Regions from separate parts of the Homo sapiens genome. Here region 1 is linked to region 2. The links come from fine-mapping of genetic effects on gene expression. A gene starts in region 2. The other region holds a variant in brackets. All regions are shown on one strand. Distances are between the middles of the regions.

Evidence for each region. PIP is the estimated chance that this variant, and not a neighbour inherited with it, causes the effect. A credible set is the group of variants that fine-mapping cannot tell apart.
Region 1: its variant is the best candidate, but not a certain one, in a credible set for the expression of SAMD3 in whole blood (INTERVAL, PIP 0.59).

The regions. Positions count from the first base shown.
Region 1 is chr6:130,148,961-130,154,346 of GRCh38, forward strand. All of the region lies in intron 9 of SAMD3 (sterile alpha motif domain containing 3), which reads right to left. Among named protein-coding and RNA genes, the nearest start is that of SAMD3, 71 kb to the right of the region's middle. RefSeq lists an enhancer at 3,685-4,305. The variant A/G (reference allele first, on the strand shown) is at 2,527.
Region 2 is chr6:130,220,211-130,225,596 of GRCh38, forward strand. It overlaps SAMD3 (sterile alpha motif domain containing 3), which reads right to left and starts at 2,741. Exons shown (of 12, transcript NM_001017373.4): 1 at 2,484-2,741. RefSeq lists an enhancer at 3,348-3,457.

The DNA.
Region 1 (5,386 bases), 71 kb before region 2:
GGAAATGTTTGAATTTACATAAACAAAGGCACCCGTTGATCCAGAAACACCAATAACTATATATGTAAATATTAAATAGCCATACATAAAGACTAAAACCATGAATTCACATTGATACTTTCAATTCCAAACCAATACCACAGGGCTTTTCCTAACCTTCCCCTTCCCAAGCTTCTAACTCTCTTCAACAGTGAGATTCCTGGCTCCCATTATATCTCAGTGTATTTACTTATGAGCACTAACATCTGTGTAGCCAAGCTCCCAGCTGTGAATGGTCAGCCACAGGAAAGCCTCCAACACTTATACACTGCTAGTGGGAATGTAAATTAGTTCAGCCACTGTGGAAAGCCGTTTGGAGATTTCTCAAAGAACTTAAAACAGAGCTACCATTTGACCCAACAATCCCATTACTGGGTATATACCCAAAGGAATATAAAGAAAGACGCATGCACACATATATTCATTGCAGCACTATTCACAATAGCAATAACATGGAATCCACCTAGATGCCCATCAATAGCAGACTGGATAAAGAAAATGTACATGTACACCATGGAATACTACATAGCCATAAAAAAGAATGAAATCATGTCCTTTGCAGCAACATAGGTGTAGCTGGAGGCCATTGTTCTAAGCAAATTAATGCAGGACTAGAAAACCAGATACTGCATGTTCTTTCTTATAAGTGGGAGCTAACCACTGAGTACACATGGACACAAAGAAGGGAACAATAGACCCCGGAGTCCACTTGAGATTAGAGGGTGGGTGGAAGGTGAGGATCGAAAAACTACCTATCGGGTATTATGCCCGCTACCTGGGTGATGAAATAACCTGTACACCAAACCCCCACGACATGCAATCTACTTATATAACAAACCTGCACGACGTATCCCCTGCTGAACCTAAAAGTTGGAACAAAAAGAAAGCCCCCCTTTTCACAACCCCAGATTATGTCCTACAAATTAATCATCTTAATCCTTTTTCTTTCTGTTACTCAGACTGGATAATTTCTATTAATCTATCTGCAGATTCACAGCTCCTTTCTTTTCATTTTCCAATATGCTTTTAAGCCTACGCACATGGTGATGTTTTCATTTCAGATAACTGTTCTTTTCAGCTCTGAATTTCAATTTGGTTCATGTGTGTGTGTGTGCGCGCGTGTGTGTGTGCGTGTATTTCATTTCTCTGCTGAGATTCCCTATGGTGATGATACATGGAATTTACTGGTCTTATCCTGTTCCCCACCGTCCTGTCCTGAAGCAGCTGGCTTGCCAGACTGGTGGAGTGGCCTGTTGAAGACTCAGTTACAGCACCAGCTAGGTGGCAATACCTTGTGGGGCTGGGACAAGGTTCTCCCAGGCTGTATAAGCTCTGAATCAGCATCCAGCATACAGTGCAGTTTCTTCCATAGCCAGAATTCATGGGTCCAGGAACCAAGAGTTGGAAATGGGAATGGCGCCGCTCACTGTAACCTCTAGTGATCCACTAGTGGGGAGTCTGGATTAAATTATGTTCCTTTAAAGGGTGTTAAATTTTGTTCTGATAGGCAGATAAATTATGGTGGATCTTCTGGTCCTGTCAGACTTGATTTTATCATTTCTTTCGGCAATTCTGTTTTGTTGTTTGTCCTTAGTCCTAGCTAAGGTCCTGGCTCAAACTTAGGCATGGTTCTCACTCATGAGGCATTGTTTTCTGGAGTCTCAGATGAATGCTGAGGTGTTCTGCAGGGTCTCTACACACTGGGCCAGAATTCTTTTTTTTTTTTTTTTGAGACAGAATCTCACTCCATCGCCCAGGCTGGAGTCCAGTGGCACAATCTCGGCTCACTATAGCCTCTGCCTTCCAGGTTCAAGCCATTCTCCTGCCTCAGCCTCCTGAGTAGCTGGGATTACAGGTGTGTGCCACCACACCCGGCTAATTTTTGTATTTTTAGTAGAGACAGGGTTTCACCATGTTGGCCAGGCTGGTCTCGAACTCCCGACCTCAAGTGATCTGCCTGCCTCAGCCTCCCAAAGTGTTGGGATTACAGGCGTGAGCCACCACACCTAGCCTGAATTCTTATTAGCAACACTGTGTGAAGTCTCGGCTCTCAGCCAAGGATCCCCAGGGGATCCGTGTGTAGACTTCGGCCCAGCCCACTTTCCTCCAGTGCCTGTCCTACAAAGGCCAGCTGCTTCATCATTCCTCAACTTTAATCTCTTCCTGTGCAGCTCCATGAGACCTCCGCATGCTGCTTGCCTCCCACCATTCTGTACAGTGAGCTAGAAAGTAACCCATGCACAAAACTGAGGCACATCTTATGTCTTTCCGTTACCAAGGATCAGGGTCCTGCATTGCCTGTACCTTAATGCCTGAGTGCAGTTGCCTCATACATATTTTTTTTTTCCAGCTTTATCCATGTTAACAGTGGGAAGACTAGACCAGTACCAGTTACTCCATTTGGGCCAAAACCAAACTCAAATTCTTTATTTTTTAAATTTATTTATTTATTTATTTTTAACACGGAGTTTCACTCTTGTTGCCCAG[A/G]CTGGAGTGCAGTGGCGCAATCTCGGCTCACCGCACCCTCCGTCTCCCAGGTTCAAGCGATTCTCCTGCCTCAGCCTCCTTAGTAGCTGGGATTACAGGCATGTGCCACCACGCCCGGCTAATTTTGTATTTTTAGTAGAGACAGTGTTTCTCCACGTTGGTCAGCCTTGTCTCGAACTCCTGACCTCAGGTGATCTGCCCGCCTCGGCCTCCCAAAGTGCTGGGATTACAGGCATGAGCCACCATGCCTGGCCGATTTTTTTAATTTTTTGAGACTTTATTAGCTGGCGATTCTCACGTACTTCACTTAAAGAGATGATGATTGAAATTGTTTCTCAGGAAGGCAGAAACTATGGCATCTGAAAGGATTTTTTGGAAAATTTGGGGAAGGGTTTCAGTTTGTGTTTGGTATTTTCCTTCTCAACTCCCTCCTACTTGTCTTGTGCAACATCCAGTAGATCCCAGTAACACATTCCTAGTTGATAATATTTTAGATAATCTAATAAAGTAAATGGTTACATTCTGAATTTTTAAATGCCTTGTTGAAAGAAAGTTTTTTGAGGAAGGAGGTTAATGAGCATGGAGGTGATGGGGGGTCAGTGTTAACAGCCAGGACCACCGCCCACCCCGGCTGCTGCTGTTCTGCCACCCTGTCTCCACCAGCTCCCTAAGCACTCAGTGTTTTCACAATGGCAGGAGCAACAGGCGGTGGGGGTGGTTTGGTGCAGGGACAACTGTCCTCTTACGGGATCATTTGTTAACTAGGTATTTGCGAGGTCAAACTTGCTTTTATTTTAGGAGGCACACAAGAGTTTTATAAATTGGAAATCCCAGCTGCCTAGGGCTGAGTCAGGGAGGTACTTCCTGGAAAAACCGAAAATGATTCGTTCTTTTGTCTAAAACAATCAGGTCGGGCACGGTGGCTCACAGCTGTAATCCCAGCACTTTGGGAGGCTGAGGCAGGTGGATCACCTGAGCTCAGGAGTTCAAGACCAGCCTGACCAACATGGTGAAACCCCATCTCTACTAAAAATATAAAAATTAGCCAGGCGTGGTGGCGTGCATCCGTAGTCCCAGCTACTTGGGAGGCTGAGGCAGGAAAATCACTTGAACCTGGGAGGCAGAGGCTGCAGTGAGCCAAGATTGTGCCACTGCACTCCAGCCTGGGCGACAAAGTAAGACTCTGTCTCAATAAATAAATAAATAAATAAATAAAACAATCAACAGGCAACTCTATTCAATAAGTACAGTCATTACAAAAACCATACTCCATATTTTGGATATAAAGGGTGAAATACTTGAGGAATGGTGCGGAAGATACACCTATGCCACAGCAGGAGGCCTGGACAAAAGCACAGGGGACAGCATCAGGTCTGAAATCTCTCTGCTCCTCACATAAGCTATGACAGACCTCCACCTTACTGTCACCAATGGTTCTTTGAAAAGCTGCTTAACATAGTCCATTTATATTCATCACTAAGCCTTTGTAGGCCACACTCCAATGAAGACCCCTAAGGCTACGACATTAGTGATCACAACAGCCTTACCAACCTCCACTAATTCACTCAGCATTCACAAAATCAAGATTACATTGCTGTGTCACACGTGGTGCTCTGCTAGGCACTTTGGGAACTGTTAATATTAACACGTGCTCCCTACATGTAAGGAGTGTATAGACCGTAAGTTTGACAGGCTTTTGCTTTAAAACTGTATTTTGCAGATGTGTCCATTTGGCATACTTTTCTAACAGCCAGAGATGACTGGCTATTACAGTTCCTTACAACCTGAAGATTAAGGGGAAACAAGCGAAAGCCACAGTATGGTTGCTGAGAGGATTAGGTAGATTAATCCGTGGAAAGCACTGAGAACATGCTGTTACAGAGAAGCATTCAGATATTTGCTACTTATGTTTCTATTAAAATAATACAGGCAATTCTTATTTCCCTTTGCTCAGAAGAAAAATATGTAGATGTTTCATGTTTAATTTGGTTAATTGAATACATAGAATTTCTCCATGAAATATGTTCTCGGGTAAAACCTTTGATGATCTTTCATTATATACCACCACCAAAAATTACACTAAAATTGTGAAAGAACCTTGAATGGCCACTCTAAGTGAACTAAATGGAAGGGTATTTGATTGATTTACCCATTAAATTTCATATATATATATATATATTTATTTATTTATTTATTTTTTAAAATTTGAGACAGGGTCTCACTGTGTCACCAAGCTGCAGTACAGTGGCTCAGTCATGGCTCACTGCAGCCTTGACCTCCCCAGGTTTAGGTGATCCTCGTGCCTTAGCCTCCCAGAATAGTTGGGACTACAGGCACGCACCACTAAGCTGGGGTAATTTTTGTACTTTTAGTAGAGATGGGGTTTTACCAGGTTGCTGAGGCGGGTCTTGAACTCCTGGGCTCAAGCAATCCACCCACCTCAGCCTCCCAAAGTGCTGGGATTACAGGCATGAGCCACCATGCCTGGCCCTAAATTTCATATATATTTAAGGACACTTATGAAATTATTTGGGATCATAAAGGAAACGTATTTTTACTAAGGATGCATAATAACAGTTCCTTAATAAACTACCTTGATTACATAAAAGCATGAAAGGGAATAATGATTCACACTGTCAAAATACCCCTAAGTGATGATCCGCCACCCTCCACAATATGTCCAATGACAGAGAACTCTTTAGTTCTGAAGGCAGCTGGTGCCTATTATCTGAATATGCTACTGAAATTCTTTTTTTTTTTTTTTAATTTTTCCTTTTTCATGGTTAGGAAAGAGGGTGGGTGGGGAGGGTCTGCTTCCTGAAATTCCTATCAAATGGCTCTAGTTGCAGCCTTTGGGCCT
Region 2 (5,386 bases):
AGGTTGGTCTCGAACTGCTGAGCTTGTGATCCACCTGCCTCGGCCCCCCAGAGTGCTGGGATTACAGGTGTGAGCCACTAGCCTGGCCAATTTTTACATTTTCAAAGAAACTAAAGAGCCACTTATCTGGGAGGTTTAGTTAAATTAATGAACAAAAATAGCAATGAGCCAGAGTCCCAGAACTTTGGAACTTTTGAGTCACAAACACCCTAGTGTTTTGGCCTTTGAGTCAAACTTATGGTTTATCCCTGCTTCTGCCTCGTTGACAGCCAAAGCTTATGGTTCAGCAACACAGATTACAGTCCTGCCAGAGATGGTAACTGTGAACTGTGCTATTGAATTTTATGAAAAGCTGGATGTGTGACTGAGAAGTCTTGATAGTTTGAAGATGTCATTTCCCTCAGAATTAATTTATAAATTCCAATTAATATACATACGTGGTTATATGTTTTACTTACTATGAGGCTAGTTTTCATGTGGAAGAATAAATAGGTAAAAAGAACGAAAAATGCTTGACAAAAGGACTTGCACTTCCAGATGTTAAAAAATGTTATGCTATTAACAGCATGGTACTGGAGGAAAAGAGAACAGATATTGAAACAGAATAGAAACTTAGAAACAGAAACATTCATATGGAAGTACTGAAAATATCTTTTTTTTTTTTTGACAGTCTCGCTCTGTTGCCCAGGCTGGAGTGCAGTGGCACGATCTCGGCTCACTGCAAGCTCCGCCTCCCGGGTTCATGCCATTCTCCTGCCTCAACCTCCCGAGTAGCTGGGACTACGGGTGCCCACCACCACGCCCAGCTAATTTTTTTGTGTTTTTAGTAGAGACGGGGTTTCACTGTGTTAGCCAGGATGGTCTCGATCTCCTGACCTTGTGATCTGCCCACCTTGGCCTCCCAAAGTGCTGGGATTACAGGCATGAGCCACCACGCCCAGCCAGTGAAAAGATCTTTAAAATTGGTGACAAAGAAGGGATTAGTCAATATATTTTGTTGGGATAATGCCTCATAACACCTACACAATAAATTCCTCAGATAAGTTAAATATGTAAATATGAAAAATTAAAAAGAGTTTAAAATAATCTAAGATTACATAATAAAAATAAAATATTGATAGATTTGACTAAAAAGGAAAAACGCATGTGTACACATATATATCACAGTGGACCCTTGAACGACACAGGGGTTGGGACGCTGACTCTGCTATGCAGTTGAAAATTTGCAAGTAACTTTTGACTACCCCCAAACTTAACTACTAATAGCCTACTATTGATCAGAATCTTAACTGATAACATAGACAATTAACACATATTTTGTATGTTATATATATTATATACAGTACTGTTACAATAAAATGAGTTAGAGGAAAGAAAATGTTATTAAGCAAATAACAAGGAAGAGAAAACATTTACTATTTATTACATGGAAGTGGATCATCATAAAGATCTTCATACTCGTCGTCTTGCAGTGAGTAGGCTGAGGAGGAGGAGGAGGAAGAGGAGAGTTGGTCTTGCTGTCTCAGGGGTGGCAGAGGCAGAAGAAAATCTGCATGTAAGTGGACCTGAGAGGTTCCAACACATGTTGTTCAAGGGTCAACTCTATAATCCATAAAACCAACTAAAAAATTAATACACCAATAGAAAAAAATAGGAATAGGTAACTCTTGAACAAAATTTTAAACCAGTATCTGAAAAATCTACATTATTTGTAATAAAAATAATTAAATACCATCTTCATTTATTCCATTGGAAAAGGTGAAAATTAGCAAGAATGCAAGGTCAGTTGTTCTCTTACACACTGCTAAGGGGAGTATAAAGTGGCACAACTTGCCCTGTCATATTATTCCCATTTTATAATTGAAAGTCCTGGAGTTTACAGGGTAACTCGCCTAAGGTTCCTTTGCTTGTAAAGGTAAAAGTGATTTGAATCCAATCTATCCAACTTTAAAGGGTACTAATGCAAGCCAAAAACATTAAAAATATTTCTACATTCTGACCCCAAAATAGCATTTCTAAGAATGTGCCTAAAGACATTAACAGAAATGAACACAAAGATGTGTGCCATAGCAATGGTCCGAATAGCAAATAAATTGGACAGATAAAATTTCCAGCAATAGGAATTGGCCAATGAATTACAGTAATTTATATTTAAAATAAAATACTATGTAGTAATCAAAAATTGTATCTAGACAAATAACTATGTAGAGAGAAACAGTCATGGATATGGTTAACTGCAAATAAATTTAAAATAGTATGATTCAGATTTGTGGAAAGAATAAAATAAAAGTAGAATGAAATGCTTGGTTACACAAAGGCTGGGAAAGCATATACTAGAAGGCAGAAGTGGCAATCTCTGTTTGGAGGAATTAATGTTTTTTGTTTGTAATCTGCCACTCTTAAATTTTTCTCAATGAAAGAATTTTATCTTAATATCAGAAAAGTTAGAGTTTTATAGAGAAAAGGTAAAAAGTGATATTTACGGATTATTGCTGGAGAGGCTTTTGGTCCATCTCTTCCAGAAGAGAAGATCAAAGGAGAGAGCACCCCTCCTCCCCAGGCAAATCCGATCAGTGGATGTGGTTCTGGTTCCTTTGTTTTATCTGAAAAATGGAAGATATCACCTACAAATCTGGAATCTTGGTTTCTCTTGAAAAATCAAAAGTTCTGGTGATACTGGGTTCATATTTCTGAATGGCAGCAACTGAGCAGTGGCTGCCCCATTGAAAGACAGCAAGACTGGGAGCCTCACAGTACACAGGAAGCATAAGGTAAGTTTGAAACAGGGTGGATCTCAGACAGCTAACGTTTGCACCTCTCAAAGGAAGAAGATTCTGACAAGTGTGACAAATACCCATGTATGTACATACATGTTTACCATAATATATCTTTGGAACATTTAATTCTTCCTTAGTTACCTTTTTTAAGCTCCTAGAAGAAATAACACTAACTAGAAAAAAAATTTCCTATATCAATCTTAAGGCAGATATAATAATAATGTATTAGAATTTAGACATTGAATTCAAAGTCAAGGACTCAAAGCTTTGCATCTCAGAAGGTTCTAGTGTCTTGAGGCTTCATTTTCTTTGTAGCTACATCATTGAACTAAAATGCACAAACCTTTATTTAGCAGACATTGGCTGAATGTAATTCTCGTTACATAGCTCAGTGTGTACGTGATAGTGCAGGTGATAGCTGAACATTTTATAGCTCTGAGTAGTGGCAAGAACTTACATTATTAAAATATTACAACTATTTTTTTGGAGTTACTCATTTGTTAGAACACATGAAAGGTGACTTCTGTATCCACCTATATTGCTCAGCTGGTAGAGTCAAGCTGGGCTCTCTTGATCTGTTAACACTAAGTGCTGGTCTGACTTTGTAGGCCTCTTCAGGAAGAAGGGGATGCAAGGTAGTGGATCTTCTTAATGCAGTGTGACTCAAAGTGAAACTTGGAAACACCCTTGCAGGGCGTGCGATGGGTGTGACTCGCTTCTTCAGTACCCTGCAGCTCAAACCCCTAGAGGGAGCATGCAGACGGGCAGGTCATGGGGAGCATGGGCTCCTACCCCATGGCAGCACCTAGGGTTGAGTGTTTACAGCTCCAGAAGCCCCAGTGGGAGTGTGTTACAGTGCAGTCTTTCAGCTTAGCCATCCGCAGGTGGCTTGTGTTAATCAGCTCAATTAGATCCTCTGCCTTATCGCAAGGACAGAGGGCTTTCTGTATCCCAAGGTTCTTGCCTTAATGTACCAGAAAAATTGAATCACATGTAGGCTTGGAGAATGGGTGCACAGTTTTATTGACTGGTGGAAGTAGCTCTCAGCAGATGGATGGGATCCACAAGGGGAATGGAATGGGAAGGCGGTCTTCCCCTGGAGTCAGGCCGCTCAGTGGCCTGACTCTCCTCCAACCACCCCCAGGCAAATTCTACGTGGTCCACATCATACTGCTGTTGATGTCCTGCCAGTCTGTCAGTGTATTCTGCCAGTGTGTTCCTCTTGATGTCCAGCCGCTTGTGTCTGTGCCCGCTAGGGTCTCAGGGTTTTTATAGGCAGAGGATGGGGGTGTGGCGGGCCAGAGTGCTTTTGGAAAATGCAACATTTGGGCGTGAAAACAGGAGTGCCTGTTCTCACTTACGTCCATGGGTACAGGCCTGAGGGTGGAGCCCTAGCCAGGGACCCCATTCTTCTCTACCCAGCACTTCCCTGCCCGCCTCCCGTATCAAAAGCAAAGCACAGATGGGAGGTGTGGAGACACAAAAAGGCATAGGACCCTGTGTTTCTCATGAGTGACAAATGCTCATGCTTCTGCCAGCCCTAGGTTCATGTGAGGACGGGCCAGAATGTTCAAACTTTTGTTTATGCAAAAGCACTCTATTTATTTATTATTATTATTATTATTATTATTATTATTATTATTATTTTTGAGATGGAGTCTCCCTTTGTCACCCAGGCTGGAGTGTAATGGCACGATCTCAGCTCACTGCAACTTCCACCTCCTGGGTTTAAGCGATTCTCCTGCCTCAGCCTCCTGAGTATCTGGGACTACAGGCACGTGCCACCACGCCCAGCTAAGTTTTTGTATTTTTAGTAGAGATGGGGTTTCACTGTGTTAGCCAGGATGATCTCGATCTCCTGACCTCATGAACCGCCTGCCTCGGCCTCCTAAAGTGCTGAGATTACAGGCATGAGTCACCACGCCCAGCCCGAAGCACTCTTTTTAGAGTTGGCCCAAAAGGTAAAATTCATACCAATTGGTAGGCTATAGTCCATCATTAAATATGAGTCTGTGTGTCTGAATTTGTGTGTATGTGTGTGTGTTAGAGAGAGATAAAGAGAGACAGACAGAGACAGAGAGCAGTACTGAGCAAGAGAGTGAGTGAGCATGGGGAAGAAAGTAAGGAGGAGAGGAAAAGGTTATGTGAATGATTAACAAGTAAAAAATAATGTTACTGAAACACCAGGGGTTCAGTTTAGGTCCTGCTATTTGCTGCACAGAAAGCCAACGACTGAGACAACAAGTATTGCCAAGGAAGAAGGCTTTAATCAGGTGCTGCAGTCCAGGAAATGGGAGCTCAGTCTCAAATCCATCTTCCTGATCAACTAAAATTAGAGGTTTATATAGCGGGGAAGAAATGTTAAATATGTATGGGAAAACAAGAATGTGGAAGGAGTAAGGGAGCAATTACAATGAATGAGAGGCTGGTATCTCATTGTCTGGATCTGGTGAGTTTCAAGCTTTAAAACCAGAAGGATTAATTTCTATATTTAAGAAAAACTGTCTATGGGACTACTGGATCAGTTTCAGTAAGATAGGCATATTAGAAATAAAGACTGTAAGGATTATAATAGCACATAGCTTTCCTCTTTAGATTGTTCCAAGGTA